Homo sapiens: one gene and its partners. The protein of the gene in region 7 interacts with the protein of the main gene of each other region in a pairwise test. Each region holds a gene or a part of one and is shown on either strand. Other genes may lie near its edges. The genes, in order: ZRANB1, LATS2, OIP5, CRX, FOSB, RBPMS and GLIS2.

Region 1 (3,500 bases), on a different chromosome or scaffold from region 7:
CTTATTTTTTGTATTTAAAAACAGTATTCTGGGAAGGAGTCCATAAGTTTCATGAAACTACCAACATGGTCCATGACACAGAAACCGATGAAAATTCCTGCCCCACATACATATCCCCAACTCTAATGTTCTCCTGTTCTCATTCCAAAAGAACTTGGCTGAGCATTCTCTGCAACACACCCCCTTAGTCTAGACTTAGTCCAGACTCCCCCACTTCCAGTCTCCCTACTGGCCCCTTTAATTCTGTCCTTTGGAGTATTTACTCCATGGAGACTGAATCCATGACCAATTTTGCTCTTTGCCTGGAACAAATCCCCTCCACCTCTCCCACGCTGTTCCAGGGTTGTTCTACACGTCCCACGGAATACAGCAAAAGTAATGGTATGTTGCTTCCTAAATCAATTTATAAAAGACACTGCAGGTTTCAAAGACACTGGATCACTCTCTTGTACTCTGTGCCTCTCTTGGATCACTTGTTGGGGGTAAAACCAGCTGCTGTATCATGAGCATCCCTGTAGACAGGCCTGCATGGCACAGTATTGAAGCCTCCTGCCAAAAGCCACCTGAGTGGGCTTAGGAACAGATACTCTAGCCCCAGTTGAGTCTTTTGACAACTACAGCCCTGGACCACTTGACTGCAACCTCATGACATCATGAGCCAAAACTATTCAGCTAAGCAGCTCCTGGATTCTAACCCTCACAAACTCTGTGAGATAACATACATTTGTTGTCTTAGCTGCTAAGTTTCCAGACAATCTGTGATACTGCAATAAATATACTGATGTTCGATCATCATCCCACTGTTACTCCTCAGACTGTCTCAGGAGCTCAATGACTCACAATGGCCCCTCTAAAACCTTGTAATAATCTTCTACCTACCTTTAGGGGAGCCCCTTAAGACTTTCACCCTAGTTCACAACCACCTTCTTTATCCTGGCTCCTGTCACCACCAGCAACTACAACTCCACATTGACAGCCCTTCCAATATACAATAGACAACACAACTAGGCACCACAACACAAATGCAGCCAGGCCTTCGACACTAGAAAAACTCCAATTCTTCTATCTCATGTTCCAAAACCTGGATCCCTCTATCTGAAAAGTTCCCTTCTCCCTTATACTCAATAAGCCTGCCCTTTTGTTTTCATCATGGCCTTCAGTCTCTCAAGCCCCCCACCCCGGCTTCACTGGAATCTTACCAAACTGGACACAGGGGTTAGCTACTACAATCATGTTTCCATCTAACCTTCAAATTTTTTAATCCCCATACAGTGCCCTGCAGTGGTTCCCAAATATTGGCAAATTTGAATAAACAAATATGCAAAAGTATATATGAAAGATGTATACTGACAAAATTTGAATCCACAATTAATATGACTCTCTGCACTTTTACTCTATTTCTCTTACCATTAAAAAATGTTACCTTGGCCAGACACGGTGGCTCATGCCTATAATCCCAGCACTTTGGGGGGCCGAGGCGGGCAGATCACTTGAGGTCAGGAGTTCAAGACCAGCCTAGCCAACATGGTGAAACCCCACCTTTCTAAAAATACAAAATTAGCCAGGCATGGTGGCATGTGCCTACAATCCCAGTTACTTAGGAGGCTGACAAAGGAGACTCGCTTGAACCCAGGAGGCAGAGGCTGCAGTAAGCCAAGATCGTGCCACTATACTACAGCCTGGGCAACAGAGTGAGACTCCAGCTTAAAAAAAAAAAGAAAGAAAAAAAAAACCTGGATAATGTAGTCACATTCTGAATAATTCATACACAATCTCTATCATTGGTAGCATGTACCTAGTTATGTAAGCCAGAAACTGAAGAATCAACTTACATCCACACTGTATCTTCCCATATCCAATCAGTCTACTTCTTCAGACTGAGGGCCTGTCTCAGTCTCTCCAACCCTCTAACCCTCTTCCCATTTCTAAGGCTACCCTTCTGGGTACCCTTCTATGGCTACCCTTCTGCCCTTCTGGCAGAAGTTCTTGCCAGCACCTCTGCAACTCCCTCCTAACCAGGCTCACCCCTCTCCAGTGTGCAGCAGCCAAAACACAATCTGCTCTGCTCACTCCCCTGCGCCCATACCTAACACCATCCAGTGCCTAGGGATAATCTTCAAATTCCTTGACACAGAAGATCCTTCGTAATCCAGCCTCTGCTTATCTTTCAGACTTCCCTTCTCTCCATTCCCAATCACCATCTCAGCCATGCTTAGTTACCTGCAAGTCCCTAGATTCACCACAAATTCCACCATCTCTGCCCCCTGTAAAAATGCTTTCCTCAACTTCCCTTCTCTCCCTTATCCACTTCATGTGGCTAACTCCTAACTCTTTCTCTTCAAATTGCAGCAAAAACATTACCTGCTATAAGAAAGACGACAAGACACCTCAAAACTCTTCAAGTACTGGCATAACACTTGGCATTTACATCTACCAGGGCACAGGCTGCACAGAATTACCTGTTCATTTCTCTACTTTGCTGGAGATTTAATGAAGAAAGAGCCAGTATCTTTACAATTGTATCCCTTCTCAGCCTAGTGCATGGCACACAGTAAATGCACAATAAATATCTGTTAATTGAATGACTAAAGAATGACAGATACATCCCAGGTTTGTATGAACCAAACATGATGAGTCAAACATTGTTGTGACTATTCAAATATTTGAAAGCATATACCCTTAAAAATTAAGTCTCTTAAGTTTAATGTTATTTTTAAAAGGGGGTAAAAGAATTCAAAACATTTTAAAGCTGCTTAGAGAAACATTATAAAATCAAAAATGAAAACTAAAGAACAGGTTTCTTTAATATAAAAGAACATTTAACCAAAACGCCAAACTTACCTCTGTAAGCAATATTGCTAGCATATCCTGCCTCTGAAAACGTATAGCCAAGTGTACAAGAGTATAGCCAACATCAAAGGCAGAAGGACGATTCAGCAAGCGTACTTCATCTGCGGTGAGCTGACGTGCAATGTCTCCTCCTGATGACTTGTATGCTTCTATGGCAGCTAAATCACCTTCTACAACCCCTAAAACAAGCATCAAGATAGAAAAGCATTTAATTCTCATTTTCTTCAAAAAACACAAACCGTAGCAATCACTCCAAAATCTTTTAAGTGTTTCTCTGTGCTTCCTGGATCCTGATGCATCATTTAAATGTCCTATAAGAGTAAGGAAAATAAGTTTTTTCCTTTCCCTTTAAAAATTTTCCTTCCAGAACTAGAACTGCCTAGACATTTACCTTACCATCAGTGCAGGCTCCAGGCTCTGGTGAGATTTAGAGGAACTATTAGGCTGCATGAATTGGATCGAAGATCAATAATCTAGTATGAGAAACCAGACGTAACAAGAGACACTGAGCCCCTGGTTCCGGTCCTGCGTTCATCCTGACTCTGCAGAAACCAAGGAGACAGGGATGTGCTTCCAGCTGGTGTTGAGCTCCTCCTGCCCTTTACACTGCATTCTTAAAGCAGAATCAAAACAAATGCTGAGCTTTCCAT
Region 2 (3,500 bases), on a different chromosome or scaffold from region 7:
CTGTGGCCCTCATCCATTTTACCTGCCCTCTCCCGTGGTGGCCACCAGTCCCTGTGTTCTTCCCACAAGCAGTTTGAGCTACCTGTCCTGGACCGGTGTGGCTCCATGGGCCCCTGTTTTGTCTCCTTTCTTTCTTCTACGAGTCAGATCTCTAAGGGCCAGTCCTCCGCTGCTATAGCCAGCATGGGGCATTGTAAACAGTAGGCGTGTAATATATGACTCTTCGGCAGCTGCACCCTCTCCCTGGGGACAGGTTTCCTAGTCCCAGAGTTAGCCTGGAGGTGAGCTGAGGTTAAAGCCAGGTTCCCTGACTCCCACAGTTCTTCCCCTTAAATGTTTCTAGTTTTAGGTTCATCCTGAACTCACCAGTCCAACCACAAAAGTTTTCTGAGGAGAAGCAGAATTTAAGTCTCTTTCAGGCCCATCATCAAAATTCCCATATGTCCTTGACATAAGGCTAAATAGTCTATGGTGTGGCTTGTGCTAGGCTTTTGCCATCAGGTACCTGCAGGGCACACAGCCACCTGCACTCATTCTGAGGGTCTCCTGCAGCATATCGCAGGTTCTCAGCAGTACAGAGGCGAAGTGTCCCAGCACAGTCCAGCACGGAGTGGGGATGGGAGTCTTTGGTGGCTTTGTTTTAGGATGACATGCACTTACCTCTCCTTTACTTCCCTCCCAGGAGATGGCTGGCCGAGCTCTCAAGCAGACTGGCAGCAGGAGCATCGAGGCCGCCCTGGAGTACATCAGCAAGATGGGCTACCTGGACCCGAGGAATGAGCAGATTGTGCGGGTCATTAAGCAGACCTCCCCAGGTGAGCCCAGGCCTGCAGCATAGTGGGCAAAGATGGTTTGTGGCTTAAGGACAACAAAACCACGTGCAGAGGGGTCCAACCTGGCCTGGCCTGGCCAGAGCCAGTCTCCTGGCACATTGCCTCATTCAGTTAACAGGCAAGCTGAGCCTGCCCTGCCCTGACAGAGTCAGGCCCTGGCGGGAGCAGCCCCAAGTGGTAGACCGTGGGACACGCCTGGCGCTTGCCCCATCCAGCCTTGTCTGAAATTACCTTAGTACTTCCTACCTAGGGGAAGGTGTGTGCTTGTTTTATGAAAGATCAAAAAAGTCAGCAAAGCGGGCGTAAAAATGGTCTTTTCACTTTCTCTTGGGCCTGTGGAGGGATCTTTGACAAGGGTGGCTTCTTTCCTCAATTCTAAAACACACCTCTCTCACATCGTAGCTTCTGAGAGTGGGGGTTCAATGGCAGGCAGTGTGGGCAGAGCGCTGGGCCCCCCTCAGCATCCCCTGTGATGGGCCTGAGGCACCGCACCAAACCCCTGCTTTTTACTGGCTATGGATGAATGTTACTTTCCCAAGATGGAGCACATGGGCCCTGTGATTGGTACCTGAGGCCCCTGGGGTGTGATAAAGGATTCATGGCCAGGCGCAGTGGCTCAAGCCTGTAACCCAACACTGTGTGGCCTGGTTTTGTTTTGCTTTGTTTTGTTTTGTGTAATCCCAACTCTTTGGGAGGCTGAGGCCAGAGGATGGAGGCAGGAGTTGGAGACCAGCCTGGGCAACAGAGGGAGACCTCGTCTGTATTTAAAAAAAAAAAAAAAAAAAAAAAAAATCCTAGTAATTAGCAAGAGTTTTCCCTATTTTGTGGAAGACCTTGGATAAAACCTACTTCATGTGGGTGAGAAAAATCTCACCTTTGTAAGTTATATCTCCATTGTTAAAAGGACACACATTTTTGTTTTCTTCTTAAGAGAAGGAACTTCCTTAAATAGCCCCCAGCTGGCCATCCATGTCAGAATTCTTCCAGTTTTGAGGCCTTAGAGCACAGCTCAAAGGGAAGGCCAGGCCCATGTTCCGTGCTGATTTCCCTCTGCACTTGCCTTTGGTGTGTCTCTTCACTGACGTCTTCTGGGCCCAGGGAAAACAAAGCCTTGGTGTGCCTGTGACCTTTGTTCAGTGCCAGGCTGTCAGGGCCTTCACTCTGCCAGGTATCGGGGTGGTCTTCCTGTGGGCAAGGCCCAGCCTTTCCACCCTTCGGCACCCTCTGCTAAGCCGAGCCAAGTGGAGCAGTTGGCCTGAAGAAATGAAAGGAACCTTTGTCCTTCCTTCCGGTGTCTGTTTCAGATGAGATGTACAAAATGGAGGTCAGGATTAAGGTAGCAGCAGATGAAATCAATCTGGATATTTGTAGAGGGGTTTTGTGTGGTTTTTATTATTGTGTATATATTGCTTTGTTTTAATATAGACAAAAAAAACTAGAAAGTCTTTTAATTTGGAAAAGAGGTGAAAGAGAAGTGGAGCAGCTGCTGCACAGTGGATACAGTTCTGCCCTTTCTGTGAGGGAGCAGCGCTTTGGGAACCGTGTGTCGGTAAACTCAGCCCCCCACAATTTGGGCATGATAGGGTTTTGAAAAAGCAAAGCTGGCTATGCAGACGGCTCCCTAGCCTGACAGGAGAGTGACCCCAGTGTGGTCCCCAGGGGGCAGGGACGCACCTCGGGATGTGGACGCAGTCTTCTCTTCTGCCCTTGGCCCTCCCATGTGCCCTTCAGCTTGTCTCCACTCTGCTAACACATTAGGGCAACTGGTCCTGCTGGCAGGGCAGAGGGGAGTCCACTGACCCTGTGCTGGGCAGAATGCAGCACGTCAGGGCCCAGGGTTCAAGACCCTCAGCCCCGAGGGCAGCGCTAGAGTGGGGACCAGCCTGGAAGTGCCAGAACCCACTGATCACACCCACTCTGATGCTGTCTTCCTGTTTTTTCCACTGCAGGAAAGGGGCTCATGCCAACCCCAGTGACGCGGAGGCCCAGCTTCGAAGGAACCGGCGATTCGTTTGCGTCCTACCACCAGCTGAGCGGTACCCCCTACGAGGGCCCAAGCTTCGGCGCTGACGGCCCCACGGCGCTGGAGGAGATGCCGCGGCCGTACGTGGACTACCTTTTCCCCGGAGTCGGCCCCCACGGGCCCGGCCACCAGCACCAGCACCCACCCAAGGGCTACGGTGCCAGCGTAGAGGCAGCAGGGGCACACTTCCCGCTGCAGGGCGCGCACTACGGGCGGCCGCACCTGCTGGTGCCTGGGGAACCCCTGGGCTACGGAGTGCAGCGCAGCCCCTCCTTCCAGAGCAAGACGCCGCCGGAGACCGGGGGTTACGCCAGCCTGCCCACGAAGGGCCAGGGAGGACCGCCAGGCGCCGGCCTCGCTTTCCCACCCCCTGCCGCCGGGCTCTACGTGCCGCACCCACACCACAAGCAGGCCGGTCCCGCGGCCCACCAGCTGCATGTGCTGGGCTCCCGCAGCCAGGTGTTCGCCAGCGACAGCCCCCCGCAGAGCCTGCTCACTCCCTCGCGGAACAGCCTCAACGTGGACCTGTATGAATTGGGCAGCACCTCCGTCCAGCAGTGGCCGGCTGCCACCCTGGCCCGCCGGGACTCCCTGCAGAAGCCGGGCCTGGAGGCGCCGCCGCGCGCGCACGTGGCCTTCCGGCC
Region 3 (3,409 bases), on a different chromosome or scaffold from region 7:
CAGATTTTCACTCTTGTTGCTCAGGCTAGAGTGCAATGGCATGATCTTGCCTCACAACAACCTCTATCTCGCAGGTTCAAGTGCTTCTCCTGTCTCAACCTCCCAAGTAGCTGGGATTACAGGCATGTGCCACCACGCCCGGCTAATTTTGTATTTTTAGTAGAGACAGGGTTTCTCCATGTTGGTCAGGCTGGTCTCGAACTACTGATCTCGGGTTATCCATCCGCCTCAGCCTCCCAAAGTGCTGGGATTACAGGCGTGAGCCACCACGCCCAGGCAAGAATTATTTTTTTTTGAGACGCAGTCTCGCTCTGTTGCCCAGGCTGGAGTGCAGTGGCGCAGTCTCGGCTCACTGCAACCTCCACCACCTGGGTTCAAGCGATTCTCCTGCCTCAGTCTCCTAAGTAGCTGGGATTACAGGCGCCCACCACCATGACCGGCTAAATTTTTTTTTTTTTTTTTTTTGAGACAGAGTCTTGCTCTGTTGCCCAGGCTGGAATGCAGTGGCGCAATCTCAGCTCACTGCAACCTCCACCTCCCAGTTCAAGCAATTCTCCTGCCTCTGCCTCCCGAGTAGCTGGGACTACAGGCACGTGCCACCACGCCCGGCTAATTTTTTGTATTTGTAATAGAGATGGGGTTTCACTGTGTTAGCCAGGATGGTCTCCATCTCCTGACCTCATGTTCTGCTCGCCTTGGCCTACCAAAGTGCTGGGATTACAGGCGTGAGCCACCACGCCCGGCCAGGAATTCTTAATAACTGTTTCATCACTCTTATGTCTGAGACAGTTGAGCAATTACAAGGTATTTGCAAAGAAGACACCTCTATGGCAAGATGATGATATCCATTCCCAGCACAAAGGAGAATGCAGGAGTGCAGCAGTTGAGCAGCTTTTCCTTTCTTCCTGAACTATACCTTACAGTGTGGTTTTAGTATTTTGTTTTTCATTACAAATTCAATAGGGAAGGTCAAATCAAGTAAAAAGGATTATTGAGCATCATGCCATTTCATCATCCCCAAGTTCATTGGTAGAAGTTATCAAGAGTTGTCTGTATTTTAAAAAAGCATACAACCATCATGAAATTTTACCTCTGCAATCTTTTCTGATAGAGGAACATTTTGAATATCCATCTCTGATGCATTTACTATGGCTTTTGTTTTTAAGAGATAGCTAGATAGGAAAAAAGAAAAATATTAGTGTCATACCATGGTTAAGATTATAAAAGAACCAAACTTACCTTCTAAAGAAAGTATGTGTCAAAAAAAGCCTGGCTTCTTAATGATTTTCATTTCAAGACTCATGATGTTACAGTTGGCCCACCATATCCATGGGTATAGCATCCATGGATTCAAACAACCACAGACTAAAAATATTCAGGAAAAAAAAACTGGATTGTGTCTGTACTGAACAGGTACACTCTTTTTCTTGTCATCATTCCCTTAACATTACAACAACTTTGTAAATTTCCTATGTAAATTTGTAATGTACATAGCATTTACATTACGTTAGCTGTCATAAGTAATCTGGAGATTATTTTAAAGTATAAAATATATACTTTTATACTTTAAAAAGGAGGATATCCAAAAGTAATATGCAAATATTACACCACTTAATATCAGAAACTTGAGTGTCCATGGATTTTGGTATCTGGTGAGGTCCTGGAACCACAGATACTGAAGGATGACTGCATTTTCTTGGAAAAACAAATTCAAAAATAAACAAATTGGAGAGGATCTCTGCCGCATCCCACCAGAGACAAAATTATCTCAGGGTAAATTAAAGACAAAAACCAGGCTCATATGAATAATTACGATGATTATAAGCTTTACACTTCATCAGTAGGATCCTGTAGCACAGTTTGAAAGAAAGTAATCCCAGTATGAGACATAGTGTTGGTCACCTATTCCCAGTAGCTGTTCCTCACTTTTTTTTTTTGAGATGGAGTCTCGCTCTGTTGCCCAGACTAGAGTGCAGTGGTACAATCTCAGCTCACTGCAACCTCTGCCTCCTGGGTTCAAGCGATTCTCCTGCCGCAGCCTCCCGAGTAGCTGGGATTACAGGCTTGCGCCACCACGCCCAGCTAATTTTTGTATTTTTAGTAGAGATGGGGTTTCACCATGTTGGCGAGGCTGGTCTCGAACTCCTGACCTCAGGTGATCCCCCTGCCTGGGCCTCCCAAAGTGCTGGGATTATAGGCGTGAGCCGAGCCCAGCCTTCCTCACTTCTTTATTGCCAACAGAATCCAGATTTTTGCCATGAGCCTACTGTTACATATTTGCTTTCTCAGATGAGGTGATCATGTGACATAGTTCTGGCCAACAAGGGTAAGAAAATGGGATGGGTGTGCTGGCTCACACCTATAATCCCAGCACTTTGGGAGGCTGAGGCAGGCAGATGGCTTGACATCAGAAATTTGAGACCAGCCTGGGCAACATAGCGAAACTCCATCTCTTTTTTTTTTTTTTGAGACAGAGTCTTACTCTGTCACCCAGGCTGAAGTGCAATGGCGAGATCTCGGCTCACTGCAACCTCCGCCTTCCAGGTTCAAGCAATTCTTCTGCCTCAGCCTCCCAAGCAGTTGGGATTACAGGTGCCCACCATCATGCCCAGCTAATTTTTGTATTTTTAGCAGAGACAGGGTTTCACCATATTGGACAGGCTGGTCTTGAATTCCTGACCTCAAGTGATCCGCCTGCCTCAGCCTCCCAAAGTGCTGGGATTACAGCTGTGAGCCAACATGCCTGGCCAGCGAAACCCCATCTCTACAAAAAATACAAAAATTAGCCAGATGTGGTGGCATGCCTGTAGTCCCAGCTACTTGGGAGGCTGAGTTGGGAGGATCACCTGAACCCAAAAGGTTGAGGCTGCAGTGAACCATGATCGCTCCAGCCTGTGTGACAGTGAGACCCTGTCTCAAAAAAAAAAAAAAAAAGAATAAAAAAAAGATTAAGAAAATTTATGCTGGCGGGGCGCAGTGGCTTATGCGTGTAATCCCAGCACTTTGGGAGGCCGAGGCGGGGGGATCACCTGAGGTCAGGAGTTTGAGACCAGCCTGGCAAACATGGTAAAACCCCATTTCTAATAAAAATACAAAAATTAGCAGGCTGTGGTGGAGCGCACCTGTGGTCCCATCTGCTTGGGAGGCAAGGCAGGAGAATCACTTGAACCTGGGAGGCGGAGGTTGCAATGAGCTGAGATCACACCACTGTGTTCCAACTTGGGTGACAGAGCAAGACTCTGTCTCAAAAAAAAAAAAAAAATTTATGCTGATGAAAAGGGGGAATTTTCTTGTGTTCCCATACTCTCCATATCCTTTTCCTTCATGTTTAGGATGCTATCATCAATAGATGTAATGACTGTAATTGCAGCAGCCATCCCGAATCCAAGAGGAAAAGGCCAAAGTTTCT
Region 4 (4,060 bases), on a different chromosome or scaffold from region 7:
TTCCCAGCTGAGCAGTTGTTCCCACAGGTGAGGTCTGAATGCTCACAGCCACCTGGTGGGGCAGACATGCAGATAACTCCATTCTACAGCGGGGGAGACTGAGCCTGGGAGGGAGGGAGGTGCCCACAGTTCAGGTGGCTGATGACCTTAAGGACCTCCAGGGGGCCCCAGCTTCTCACACACTGCATGCACCATGGACCTTGGGAACAAGATCTCAGGCAACAGTAACTCCATGGAAACTTCCTCCCAGGCGGCTTCTGGTATCATCCCCACTTTACAGAGAAGGAAACTGAGGCTGAGAGAAGTGTAGTCTCCAGTTCTGTCTCGCACGTCAGCGGCAGAGCCAGAGCTGGGCCAGCACCTGCCCCGGAGCCGGTGCCCTCCTGATCACCCGGCGATATGGCCTCTTAGGATGCTCCCCACAGCCCCACGGAGCTCAGAGGTCCCTTTCTCAGAGGAGGAAACTGAGGCTGAAAGAGGTTTCGTCAATTCCCGAGGTCACACAGGTGATGAGTGGAAGAACCAGGGGTAAAATTTAAATCTCTTTGGCCCCCGAGCCCCGCTCTTCACCCCCAAGTCTACCTAGGGACCCTAGAAACAGAATGAGGCTGGTCTCCTGCCCTGCTCCCACTGCAGGCCAGGCCTGCAATATGGCTCATCTGGCTGGATCATGGTGACAGCTTATCATTGTCCCCACTTTGCAGAGGAGGCAACCAAGGCCCAGAGAGCCCACATGAGGGGTCCAAGGCCACACAGTGAGAAAAGAACAAGATTTAAACGCAGACTCGGCCGGGTGTGGTGGCTCACGCCTGTAATCCCAGCACTTTGGGAGGCCGAGGCAGGTGGATCACCTGAGGTCAGGAGTTTGAGACCAGCCTGGCTAACAAGGTGAAACCCCATCTCTACTAAAAATACAAAAATAAGCCAGGCATGGTGGTGCACGCCTGTAATCCCAGATACTTGAGAGGCTGAGGCAGGAGAATCGCTTGAACCTGGGAGGTGGAGGTTGCACTGAGCTGAGGTCATGCCACTGCACTCCAGCCTGGGCCACAGAGTGAGACTCCGTCTCAAAAAAAAAAAAAAAAAACCAGACTCATGTGGCTTCATGCCAGCCCTTGGCAAGACCCTCCCAGCTCAGCCACATTCAGGGCCCTCCCTTGTCAGCCACTCCAGCCTCTCTCTGCAGCCTCTGTTGGCTCCTCTGTCCAGCGGGGACAAGGAGCTGGGTGGATGCACCCACTGCCGGCCATGAGACCTGGGGGAAGCTGGGATCCACGGCACAGTTAGAGCCTGAGCAAATCAACTCCGTGATCAACAATGTGATCCCTGAAGCATCCAGAAATTCACACACAGTGGGCAGCCCTGAAGTCGGACCTCACTCTGTGGCAATCACAGCCCTCGCTCGTTCCTTTTGGGAAAACCGCATCACACCTCCTCTCTGTGGCAGTCTGTCTACCTGCTTCTACCCTTCTGCCCTTCATTCATTCATTCATTCCCTGCATATTCACTGAGCACTCACTGTGTGTCTAGGACTGACCCAAGCACTGGGAATACAGCCGAGAGCAAGACAGACAAGGCCTCAGCCCTCCTGACAGGGGCAGACGGGAAACAAGGTGTCAATCAAGAGTTTTGCAGGAGACCGGCTGGGCGCAGAGGCTCATACCCATAATCCCAGCACTTTGGGAGGCTCAGGCGGGCTGATCACTTGAGGTCAGGAGTTCGAGACCAGCCTGGACAACATGGAGAGACCCCCCATCTCTACTAAAAATACAAAAAATAGCTGGGCATGGGGGCACGCGCCTGTAATTCCAGCTACTCAAGAGGCTGAGGTGGATGGACTCCTTGGACCTAGGAGGTAGAGGTTGCAGTGAGTGGAGATCGTGGCACTGCACTCCAGCTTGGGCAACAGAGCAAGACTCCATCTCAAAAACAAACAAAAAAAAACTTTGCAGAAAGAAGATCAGAGAGAGTGACTGTGCTGGAAGCTAAGAGGGCGGGGGCGTGAGGATTCCCCAGTCCCGAAGTAGAGCCTGGGCTGAAAGCCAGAGCCTCTGGGTGCATTGAGGCCCTAAGTGATCAATTCACCAGCACAGTGATCCCCAGTCATCACATTCCTGGCTCTCTCGGGCAGGCCCAAGTCCACCCGGAGTTCTTCCTGTTGCAGCCACAGACCTGGGCTCTCTGCGTATATGTCTGTTCCGTCCCTTGTCTGTCATTCATCCATCCATCTATGCAACACATATTTAGGCAAATCCCAACCACACGCTGGGCACTGGGGAAAAATCAGTGCTCAACAAGGGAGGGAGACAGGCCATTTGTGGATCATCGCGCAAATGAAAATTTCAGGCAGTGCTAAGAGTTTTAAAGAACATCCAACAGAGCGGTATGCTGAGGAGTTGCCTTAGAACCACGGTGAGAAGCCCCCAACCCCGGATGCCGTCAGGGCTTGAGGGGACCCCCTTGCCCACAAGCCACCCTGAATCCTCCCAATGCCCCGAGTGCCATCAGCCAGTCCCTGCTGTCTAACCTTACTCCCTCCTGCTGCAATCACAGCCTAGCCCCGTTTCCACAAATGCCAGGACGGCACCTCTGTTTTGTGTGTGACTATTCAGCAAACATCACCTGCAGAGCACGGCAAACACAGCCACGAATAAGATAAACCCAACTTCTCCCCTCTCTTTTTTCTCCCCTCCTCGGTCCCCTCCGCCTCTCCTGCAGACGCTCACCTTCAGAAAGGAGGGACGGGGCTCTCCCGTGGCCCAGGACCTAGACAGAGCGGCCAGACAGCAGAGGCTGAAGGAAACACATCCCCTCACATGGGGAGATTTTAAGCCTGGGCCGGGAGTGATGTCATTTGTCATGGCCTGGAACTCGGAGGGTAATCCCGGCCAAGGTGGGGGACTCGACTGGGCACCAGGAGGTGACATTGGCTGGGAGGGGGAGGGGCACCCGTCTGCTTAATCCCCTCCTCTTCCCCCCATGACATCTTGGCAATTAGGGCTGATGGGGAAGGGAGGCCCCAGCTCCTGCCGGTGACCATAAGCCCCTACTCCTCAGGGAAGTCCTTCCTTAGGTCTAACTGGTGTCTCTCCAGCTTCAGCTAGTATCCCAAGAGAGAGGCATCAAAGAGGAAGGAGAGCACTGTCAGATGGTCCTGAGAGATCGTCTGAAAAAAGAGAGGCACGGAGCTTTCGGGATCCCTCTCCTGGGTCCCCCTTTCTCTCCACAACAGTCTGTCCGACAGCTAGTTTATCTCTGTAGTGCCTCATTGGTCTCGGTTTCTGCCTCAGTTTCCCCTGTTTCTCTCTCTTTGACTTGGTCAAGTCTTGTCTGTGGCCTCTCTGTCTCTGTGTTGTCAGACATGATATTCTCCTCTTTTTGGGGGCGGAGGTGGCAGGGGCTGCTTCCAGCACTGAAAATAGGCAGACTTATTAGAAAGGGTGTTTTGTTTTTCTGTTTTTGGTGGAGTTTGGGGTTTGGGATTTTTTTCTTTTTTTTTTCCTTTTTTTTTTTTTTGGTTGAGACAGGGTCTCACTCTGTCGCCCAGGCTGGAGTGCAGTGGCATGATCACAGCTCACTGCAGCCTTGACCTCCTGTGCTCAAGGGATCCTCCCTCCTCAGCCTCCCCAGTAGCTGAGACTTTACAGGCACATACCACGATGCCCAGCTAATTTTTTTATTTTCGTAGAGATGGAGTCGCTCTATGTTGCCCAGGCTGGCTTCAAACTCCTGGCCTCAAGCAATCCTCCCACCTCGGCCTCCCAAAGTGCTGGGATTGCAGGCGTGAGCCAACAAACCCAGCACTCACCATCTCTCTACACACCATTGGTCTTTGTCTGGCTTCTCTGTACCTCAGTTTCTTTTCCTGTGGGCCTTAGGCTGTGGCATTTCTGCCTACTTTCCTGAATACCACTCTTTCATTCTCCATCTGCTCCTCTCCGTCCCTGTCTCTGTTGATAAACCTGCATTATCCCCTTGGTCTCTCTTATTCTTTTTCTCTGTGTCTCCCTGTCTATCTTGCTCTTTCTCCCCTCTCCCTCAGCCTCCATGTCCTTCTGTT
Region 5 (2,342 bases), on a different chromosome or scaffold from region 7:
CCCCTCCCCACCCATCCCCAGAGCTTGGGTTGACGTCAGAGAGCCAACAGTCAGCTGGGGGTGTCCATCCCCTTCCCACCCCCTGTCCCCAAAGTCACCAGCTCTCCGGCCTCGCCGGGGCACAGAAACAAGAGGCAGGACAAAACACAAGGAATCCTCCTGTCCGATGGCAGTGGCGCAGTGGCCGCAGAGGGTCAGACGGAGGAGCCAGGGAGGCCACACACCCACTTTGTCTCTTCCCCTCTCTCTCCTCCTTCTCCTCCTCCTCCTCCTCTTCCAAGTCTCTCTCCCCCATGTGTTTGTTTGTTTTGTGTGTCTAAAGAGTTCACAGAGCGAGGAGGGAGGGCGAGTTCAGGGGATCGGAAGGCTGGTCACTGCCGCTGGTGCGTTGGGCGCCGGCGAACGCGGAGACCTCCGGGCAGGTGAGGACAAACGAAGAAGTGTACGAAGGGTTAACAACGGGGAAGGGGTCGCCGAGGACTTGAACTTCACTGTGTGTAAAGAGAGAAGCCGTCAGGTTGGGGGGTGCGTCTTGGCTGGTCTGGAAGGGCAGGGGCGGTGGTGGCGGGGGCGGCAGCAGCCAGCTGAAGCCATCTTCCTTAGCCGGTGCTGAGCCCGGCAAATCTCTCACCTCCGCCAGCGGGCCCGGCCCGGGCCCCTCTTCGTAGGGGATCTTGCAGCCCGGTTTGTGGGCCACCAGCACAAACTCCAGACGTTCCTTCTCCTTTTGGAGCTCGGCGATCTCCGACTCCAGCTCTGCTTTTTCTTCCTCCAACTGATCTGTCTCCTGAGGCCAGGGAGGCCAGGTCACAGAAGAGAGAGAGGAAGGAGAAAAAAGCATGTCAGTGACCGGGAAACTCGGGTCATGGCTCCCTTGGACTTGCTGCTGGAAGGCAGCCCCGGGCTGAGAAAAAACACCTCCTGAGATGGAGTCCTGGTGGCCATGGGAGTTGGGGCAAGGGTCTTGCCTTCCAGGAACCTCAGTTTCCCCCATCTGTCCAAAGGATGGTACAGAAGGGGCCAGGTTTATGGGGAAGTTTCTGGTGTGCAGGAGGTTTGTTGAATGAATGAACAATCGTTATGTGGTTGGTTTTGTTTTGCTTTTGAGCCAGAGTCTCGCTCTGTCCCCCAGGCTGGAGTGCAATAGTGCAATCATGGCTCACTGCAGCCTGGACCTCCTCGGCTCAAGCGATCCTCCCACTAAAGCCTCCATAGTAGCTGGGACCACAGTGGTGTGCACCACCATGCCCAACTAATTTTTTTTTTTCTTGGTAGAGACAAGTCCTCCCTATGTTTCCCAGGCTGGTCTCAAACTCCTGGGCTCAAGCAATCCTCCTGCCTTGGCCTCTCAAAGTGCTGGGATCACAGGCATGAGCCACTGTTATGTGTTTTTAATGTGTTCCCTTCTATTACCCCTCCCTCTCTACCTCCCGGGGAAGAGAAAAAGTAGAGAAGGAAAGTTGACAATTCCCTTGTTCCCTCAAGGAGTAACAGCTCACCCTGCAGGCATACAGCAGGGAACTCTCAGACCAAGGGAGGACGTAGGAAGGGAGTGGGTTTTGGGGGATGCCACCAGCACCAGGAGAGCTGTGGGTGGCTAGGGCAGGAGGTGGAATAATTTCATTTCACAGGCTTTCCAGAGTGTTAAGGGTAGAAAGAGCCCGGGAGATTTGATGAGGGTTTGCAGAGATGGAGAAACTGAGGCAAAATGGGTTGTTACTTGCTGAAGACCAGATGGGAGAAATGATGGGGGCGCCCCTCTCCTCAAGGGCCCCATGTGGCCCCTTGGGATGAAATGAAGGCTAGGAGAGTAGTCCGTGGGGTCAGGAAATGGGGGGGGGACCAGGAGTTGACTTAAGTCCATGGGGGTCTGTGTTTGTGCCCTGGGCTACCCAGTCTGGCCACAGCAGTACCTAGTTCCATGTGTGGAACGTCTAGTTCTCAACCCAGGATAAGGGTACAGGTGGAGAGGGGGCAGAGAATGGGGAGAGAGCTCCCCTCAACATCCCCTCTCCCACCCCAGGGCCTGTCCTCACCGCCTGGAGTCGGTCGGTCAGCTCCCTCCGCCGGTTCCTGCATTTAGCTGCTGCTAGTTTATTTCGTTCCCGGCGCACCCTTCGCTTCTCCTCTTCCTCTGGGGTGAGCTGAGTCAGGGAGATAGAGGCCATGAGATTTGGGGATACAGCACTCCTCCACCCATCCCGAACCTCTACTTCTTTCAGAACCCCCAAGAGCCAAAAAACAAGCCTCCGGTCCTCGCTCGTGTAGCAAGGATCTTGGGGTTTCTGTAACACTGAGGCCTTAGTGGAGCCCCCCTCCATTCATAAGAAACTTCCTGCCTC
Region 6 (3,500 bases), on a different chromosome or scaffold from region 7:
AGTAATTACACTTTTGTAGCACTTCCCCTCTGAGCACAAAGGAAATTCTGCTACTTCTGTAATTAGATAGCACTTTCTGTGTACACTTTCTCCCAGGGGGGGCCTCCACTGTCTATCCTATAGGTGGGCGTAAGAGGAATTTTCACAAAACAGGATCCTGCGGATTCAAGAAAAAAAAAAATTGGGTAGTCTTTAGGATTTCTCTTAGAACAACATTGGCCACTGCCAGCCTATCTACCCTGGTGACATGAGAATCTGGGAAAATCAAGAGGAACGTCACAAAAAAATCAACTCATGAGAAATAAAAGTTAATTAAAAGTAAAGTTGTCCTATAACTTATTTGCAGAGGTTGGTGAGCCAGACCTCATTTTGGAGATTCTCAGATGTCTCCTACCTTTGCAAAACCCTAAAGGCTGACAGAATGGAACTGGCTAAGCATTCCCTTTGCATTTTAAATTTGTGTAACAATACTGTATTACAACCTGGAATGTGAATCCATCTTCTCGGTGTGACTGGCATTTATCACTGCCATTTCCTTTTTCTCTTTAGCATTTACACAATATGCACCGTCACCATAATAGGTGCAGTAGAGTTAAAACCTAAGAGAAATACAAATGCAAGTTGTTTTCTTTTTAAGTTCCTGGACTACTTTGAGCTGACACTTAGCTGGGCTGAAAAAGGCAGCAAACTTTTAAAGTATAAATTGAATAAAATGAAAATATGGCCAGGCATGGTGGCTCATGCCTGTAATCCCAGCACTTTGGCAGGCCGAGGCGGGTGGATCACCTGAGGTCAAGAGTTTGAGACCAACCTGACCAATATGGTGAAACCCCTGTCTCTACTAAAAATACAAAAATTAGCCAGGTGTGGTGGCGTGTGCCTGTAGTCCCAGCTACTTGGGAGGCTGAGGCAGCAGAATTGCTTGAACCCAGGCAGTGGAGGTTGCAGTGAGATGGCGCCACTGCACTCCAGGCTGAGTGACAGCGCAAGACTCCGTCTCAAAGAAAAAAAAAAAAGAAAATGAAAATATAACCCACAGATTAGATGTCTTTGGGCTGCTGGCCAAAGGCTCATCCTACTCTTCCTTTTCCCCAAAAAAGTCAAAAAAGATAAAAGCAACTTAGAAATTTTTTCCTGTAAAAAAACTCACGCCTCTCCAGATTTTATGGTAGCTTGATCTTTCCTTTTAGGTGCAGGGTTGGCAAATGGAGAGTTGGAGAAGTAAAAGCCTGGGAATTAATGGCAAGTTTGGGAGGTTTATAAACAGGTTCCTGAGTTTTGAGCAAAGCAAAAAAAAAAGCATATGAGAAAGACCATATATCAGATTTTTCTAAGCTCCCCCTCAGGCTTTCCAATGGCTAAGTATACCAAACCCTTTAAAAACAGGCAGATTATATGTAATACATTTTTATGTTCCTAAATTAATTTTTAAGTTTCCATTTTTCTTGATTATTTTCAATTCTCTCCCCTTCCCAAACACTTTTTAACATGACTCTAAATTTTCACTAAATTTTGTATCTCTTTCCTTGCTAACCCTCACAACGTTTCCTAGAAAGCAGGAATTCCATTTTCTGGGCACTCACTCCCAGTATGCACGCTTTCAATTATCAGCTCTATGTTCTTGAATTGTTCTGAAAATCGTATTTCAAGATCAGACCTCTCCTCTGCACCCCAGACTCAGTAACATCTTCATCTCCTAGGTACCTTCTTTTCTTACCCTTTCCACATCTCTATTTTCTATTCCTACAAATACAACCGTCACTTAGCTAGCCACCCGAAGGAGAAACCCAAAAGGCTGCTAGGCTGTCTCCTTGCCTTCTCTCCCGCACATCTGACAGTTATCTAGGCCCTGAACACCTGGCATCTCTGCCTCAGTTGCCACTGCCAGGCTGCTGCCTCACTTTGAGACCAGGACTCTTGCAGCAGAAACCTCACTGCAAGAATGGTTCTCAACAACTTTTCCAAAATTCGCCACATCCCCCTGCCCATTGGGACGTCCTAGATTGCTGCCTTCTGGGGCACATCCACCCTGGTGCCCCATCAGAGGACAAAGTCCAATTCCCTAATGCAGAGGCAGCTCTTCCACCCACTGTGGGCCAGTGCCCCCTCCCCAGTTTCATTCTTCCTTCCCCTTCTTCTCTCCTGCCATGCCTTGCTTGCTCTTCCCCAAAAGGGTCTTTTGAAGCCTCTGTGTGTTCATTCACAGAGCGATTTCCTTGCCTAGCCCATCTTTTCCCCACTGTCTGAACCCTTTTCTCATCAGTCAAAATCTTAACTGAGATTTAGCTCATACGTCATCTTTAAAGAACTGACTCTTTAAACTTCTTTAAAGCTTTCTGTGACACAGCTCCATCCCTTCCTTGCAGGTTTGGCTGTGCTCAACTCAACTACCTCTACTTTAACCTCGGGCGTGGTTATACCTGTTTGTTCATACAGGGGCATCACCATTAAACTGTGAGCAACTTTAAGACAGGAACTGCCTCTCTCAGATCTTGGCATCTCTAGAATCTGCACATGAAGACCCTGGCTCCATAGCTTTTCAGGGCTTCAGCCACTTCCCCATCAAAGCAGCACAATCATCATAATCCCTTCATCAGCTTGGCACATAGTAAATACTCAATAAAAGTTAGGAGATAATTATTTAATGAATAGATAAAAAGATTTCTGACAATTCTGCAGGCTAAAGATTTCAGTATTTCCTTTTTCCTGCTATCAGCAACACTGACAAGCCAAGCAGCTTTCTTCTGATACCACAGACATATCCCCTTTACTCAGCTTCATGTTTCAGATAATATCAAGGACCTCCCACCTCCACCGCCAAACATAGAAAATATAGTGCAATAAAATTGTTTACAATATTCTCCTGGTACACTTTAGGGATGTGAGTGTGAGGAGTTATCCCCATATGACAAATAAGCTCATCCCCACCAGGGGCATGGAACTGACTTGTTCATACCAACATAGCATCCATTTTAAATACCTGGTCCCAGATGGCCTCAAGCCCACTGAGCTATGCAGCCACTTCTGCACCAGCTTTTAAGGTTCATTCTCCTCATTCCTTCCTAAGTTTTTTTCTTTGACCAAAGCAAGCACTGTTCAAGAGGAACATTTGCATTCCCTTTCCCCTACCCCCAGGCAGACACTAAGGTGCCAAATGAAACTGAACACAAACATTCCAAAGTGGCTGTCACACAGAGCAGGCTTGTTTGGGAACACAGGGAGTCCATGCTCTTCCACCTAACCAAGGCTTCTGGAAGCCCTCGTCCAAAAGGTCAAATGGAATTCCACAGCAGAAACCAAATTCTAATGGTGAAAACCCAAATGCACCTTGGGACAAGCAGTCCCACACTGACAGTGGCTATCTGATGGACCAGGCAGGCTCACCTGTGCTCGCAAATGGAGGTTCCTAATGACAAAGGGATGGAAGTAATTTTCCAGCAGTGGCTATTTGATGGACCAGGCAGGCTCACCTGTGCTCGCAAATGGAGGTTCCTAATGAC
Region 7 (3,500 bases):
AAGAGCCTTGGGGAGGTGGGAGCCCTGCGGGTCGGCGCCCGGTCAGCATGCCTGCTGCACACAGTCCATCACCCTGATGACCCCGCGAATGGATGCCATTTTCCCCATTTTCCATGTGGGGAAACCTGCCACTGTCACAGCCAGCAAGGGGCACAGCTGGGTTCGCCAGCAGACCCCAAAGCCCAGTGCCACAGAGGACCAGAGGCTATGGCCCGGCTGATCTGCAGTGACCCTACCAGTCATGGAGTAGACGAGGAGGCAGGAGAGAAAGAGGCCCCTCAGAGAGGCTGGGACAGAACCTAGAGGGCACTGGGGAGCCACAGAGGGCTCTACACAGAAGAGTGCCACCTGCTCTCTCAGCCCAGAGCCTCCTGCCCCAGGCCCTCTCCTTTGGCACCCCCCTTCCTCAGGATCCCCTGCCCCCTGGGAACCTGATGCTCCCAGGTGCCAGCTCCTCCCTCACCACCATCCATGCCCCCCTGTTCTCTTTCCTCCAGCCACCATCCCCTTCTGCCCCCTCCTCCACCAAGTGCTCCCTGGTTCACCCTCCCCAGCCTCGGTTTCTGGAGCTGCACACAGGCTGTGGGTCCAGGTACCTGAGGGCCTGCTGGGCAAAGACTTGCCTCTGTCCACCCCCGCTGGAGGCAGGCTGTCCCGGGTCCAAGTCCTTGCCAATGCATCACTGAAGCCAGTGTCACCTGTGCACAGCGTGGTGTACACAGCGCCGACCTTCAGCCCCAGGCCTCCCACTGGCCCTGGTATCCAGAGCCTCCTTCCAAGAAGGGAGCCTGGGAGTGGGCCGGGACATGTCTGGGACGCCGGGCAGCTCCAAACCCGCTGTGGCTACTGAAGAGAAGGCCTCACCAGCAGACCCCTGCCCCAGTTCCCACGGCCCCTGGCACGGAGCCCACCCCATCCACCAGAGTGAACTGGGCAGTGAGGCAGGGAACCCAGAATGAGAAAACTAGGCCTGGGTTTCCCCATCCACAGGAGGGGGCCTGCTGAGAGGACAGCCGAAGCTCCAACAACCCCAACCACTCATCTTAGGTGGCACAGTGGTACCTGCCCTTCACATATCCCAACACCTGGCACTCCGCGAATGAGTCCGTCTCATTCATGTATTCATTCACTCGACAGACATTCCCGCCTTTACCCCCAAGTGAGGAGGGGAGGGGTAGGTATGGAGGGGTTCGTGCCCAAAGAGGAATGTGACTTGCCCAAGGTCAAGGCTAGAAGCAGGGGCTGGTCTCCTGACATAGATGCCTCTTTCTCCCTGTCCCAGGCAAGGGACCCAGGAACAGAGCTGGACAAGGGTGTGGTGGCCCCTAGGAACCACCCTGGCCAGCTGGGATGGTGGGAAGGGCCCAGATCCCCCCCAGCTCCATCTCCTGCCACGCCCTCCCAGCCCTGGCCCCCAGCCCCAGATAGCTGGGCAAGAGCAGGCCCAGCAGGGCACCGCACACACAGGACTCCAGCCCATGCCCTCCTCCTCAGCCACCCGCCCCTCTCTGCTCGCCTACTCTGGAAGAAAGCAAGTCCAGAAGCCGGGGACAGCCTCCAAAGCCATCGAGGTCCTTTTCCTTCCAAAGGGGAACACCCACTGGCAGGATCTGCCAGGCCTGGTGGCTCCAGGCCCTCGGGGCCCAGTGGCCCTAGAACCAAGCAGGGTGACCACTAGGTGCTCCGGGGGGTGCTGGGGGAGGCCGGGGCTGGCAGGGAGACGAGCACCAGCACAGGGTTGGGGGGACTTCAGAATAGGGAGGACAATGGAGGCCCCTACAGCCTTGCGGGGAGGGGACATCCCAGCTCAGAGTCGGTCTGCCTGGAAGTTGGGGTGGGGAATGGGGGCTCTGGATGAAGGTGGGAGTGGCCCAGGGGAGAACTGGCCCAGGCAGGCCGGGACTTGCTAGACAGCCCCAGGCAGACGATGCAGGGAAGGGGAGAGGCTTCTTCCAGACACGTTGGCCCCCGTCATGCCCTTGCAGTGGACGTGGGGGGCAGGAGTGGAGCTGGGGGGATTCCCAGGCTAAACCGACATTTCAGGGGTCAGGGCCAGACAGCCCCAGACTCCAGTTCCCCTCTGTTCTTCCCCGATTGGGAGTGACCTCGGGCCAAACCCTCAAATGTCTCAGAGCCTCAGTTTCCCCCCACCGGCCTCCGACGACCTCTTGACTACCAGGGTCCAAGCGAGGCTGCCCTGGGAGCGTGCTGTGCCAGCGGTGGGGACCCTCCATGTGACGGGCAGGACTGTTTTCCGGAGGCTCCCGGCCGGGGGCTGACTCAGTCCACTCAGCGGTCTCCTGGGGCCTCTGCTGGCTTCCCACCCGCCCTTGGCCATGACTGGAGGAAGGGGCCAGGGCTGGGTCTCCGTCCCTTCCCCGGCAGCCATCTGCCAAGGCTGGAGTCCGTGTGCACGCACATGTGACACTCACAGGCCGGCCCCTCCCTGCGGTGGGCACTACCTGGCCTCTCAAGCACCGAAGACAAAGGGCACGAGGAGCCCAAGTCACCCGCCCCCCAGCCATCGAACTGGAAGAGTCTCAGCCCCCACCCATCCCCCAGCAGGGGCTGCTGGGGCAGATGGGAAGCCCCCACCCCTCAGCTGGAATCACTTCCCATCTCCATGCCCCCCAGGCCCACTTAGCCTGGCCACCAGCTAACCAGAATCCTCCAGCCCATCTGGGGGAGTGGGGGAGTGGAAGGCGAGTACCCGGCCTCCGTGCCTGCCCAGCCTCACCCAGGGGCTAAGCCGGAGCCAGGAGAGAAACCTGGGTCTCCTCCAGGCTGTGCCCTGCAGACCCTGCCACCATCATCACCATGATCCCTCTCCAGTCCCTGGGATCAAAGCAGTGCCCCCACGCTGGCCCCCCAGCAGAGTACTAGAGGTGCTTGTTGGAAGCGCGGAGTCCCCGCCCCCAGCCACGCCTGACTTAGAATTCACCAGGGTGGGGCGGAGGCGGCCACCTCAGAAACCACTGAGAGGCAGATGTGGCCCGGGAGACTCGCTAGGGCTGTGGTCCCCACACCCAGGGCTGGCAGCAGGCTGGGGCAGGGCGCAAGTTCCCAGAGACGTGAACCCCCAGATACACATCAGGGCCTCAACCCATCTCTGTGGACCCTTTCATAGCCCCTGGGAAGGGAGGCAACTTAGGCAGAGGGTGGAGAGCATCTTTCAGCTGGTCCCACAGATCCCCTAGCCAGCAGGGAGAGGGTCTCTTACTGCTCAATACACAGCCCCGCCAAGCTGGGGATGCCCCCTACCCCTGAGAAGGGCATTTATCTGGGTGAGGGGAAGACCACCCAGGACCTTCCGGGGTTCCCCTGTGGTCTCAGTCACCTGCTGTGAAATAAAGTAACAATTATAGCCATGAGGAGAGGAAGGGATTCAGGGGACACTTTTCTCTGCAGCCACCCCCGCCCCAATTCCACCCAGCACAGGGCCTCTCCCATGGAATCAATTTCCTCCTTAGGTGCCAGAGACCCCTGGGCCTCCCCTTAGA

What was found.
Region 1: the proteins of GLIS2 (region 7) and ZRANB1 interact in binary tests that used the Homo sapiens proteins (3 or more experiments, as listed by UniProt).
Region 2: the proteins of GLIS2 (region 7) and LATS2 come close enough for resonance energy transfer, tested with the Homo sapiens proteins (one large-scale study listed by BioGRID).
Region 3: the proteins of GLIS2 (region 7) and OIP5 interact in binary tests that used the Homo sapiens proteins (3 or more experiments, as listed by UniProt).
Region 4: the proteins of GLIS2 (region 7) and CRX interact in binary tests that used the Homo sapiens proteins (3 or more experiments, as listed by UniProt).
Region 5: the proteins of GLIS2 (region 7) and FOSB interact in binary tests that used the Homo sapiens proteins (3 or more experiments, as listed by UniProt).
Region 6: the proteins of GLIS2 (region 7) and RBPMS interact in binary tests that used the Homo sapiens proteins (3 or more experiments, as listed by UniProt).

Annotation. Positions count from the first base shown.
Region 1 is NC_000010.11:124,966,123-124,969,622, reverse strand, and holds part of ZRANB1 (ubiquitin thioesterase ZRANB1), read right to left. Parts: intron 3,030-3,500; coding exon 2,842-3,029; intron 1-2,841. UniProt on the Homo sapiens protein: Ubiquitin thioesterase, which specifically hydrolyzes 'Lys-29'-linked and 'Lys-33'-linked diubiquitin. Also cleaves 'Lys-63'-linked chains, but with 40-fold less efficiency compared to 'Lys-29'-linked ones.
Region 2 is NC_000013.11:20,988,587-20,992,086, reverse strand, and holds part of LATS2 (serine/threonine-protein kinase LATS2), read left to right. Parts: intron 1-682; coding exon 683-815; intron 816-2,782; coding exon 2,783-3,500. UniProt on the Homo sapiens protein: Negative regulator of YAP1 in the Hippo signaling pathway that plays a pivotal role in organ size control and tumor suppression by restricting proliferation and promoting apoptosis.
Region 3 is NC_000015.10:41,312,183-41,315,591, forward strand, and holds part of OIP5 (protein Mis18-beta), read right to left. Parts: intron 1,173-3,409; coding exon 1,091-1,172; exon of another isoform or gene 1-1,090. UniProt on the Homo sapiens protein: Required for recruitment of CENPA to centromeres and normal chromosome segregation during mitosis.
Region 4 is NC_000019.10:47,820,677-47,824,736, reverse strand, and holds the start of CRX (cone-rod homeobox protein), read right to left. Parts: upstream 2,801-4,060; 5' UTR 2,727-2,800; intron 1-2,726. UniProt on the Homo sapiens protein: Transcription factor that binds and transactivates the sequence 5'-TAATC[CA]-3' which is found upstream of several photoreceptor-specific genes, including the opsin genes.
Region 5 is NC_000019.10:45,470,996-45,473,337, reverse strand, and holds part of FOSB (protein FosB), read right to left. Parts: intron 2,145-2,342; coding exon 2,037-2,144; intron 788-2,036; coding exon 326-787; 3' UTR 1-325. UniProt on the Homo sapiens protein: Heterodimerizes with proteins of the JUN family to form an AP-1 transcription factor complex, thereby enhancing their DNA binding activity to gene promoters containing an AP-1 consensus sequence 5'-TGA[GC]TCA-3' and enhancing their transcriptional activity.
Region 6 is NC_000008.11:30,391,041-30,394,540, reverse strand, and holds part of RBPMS (RNA-binding protein with multiple splicing), read right to left. Parts: intron 1-3,500.
Region 7 is NC_000016.10:4,319,067-4,322,566, reverse strand, and holds part of GLIS2 (zinc finger protein GLIS2), read right to left. Parts: intron 1-3,500. UniProt on the Homo sapiens protein: Can act either as a transcriptional repressor or as a transcriptional activator, depending on the cell context. Acts as a repressor of the Hedgehog signaling pathway. Represses the Hedgehog-dependent expression of Wnt4.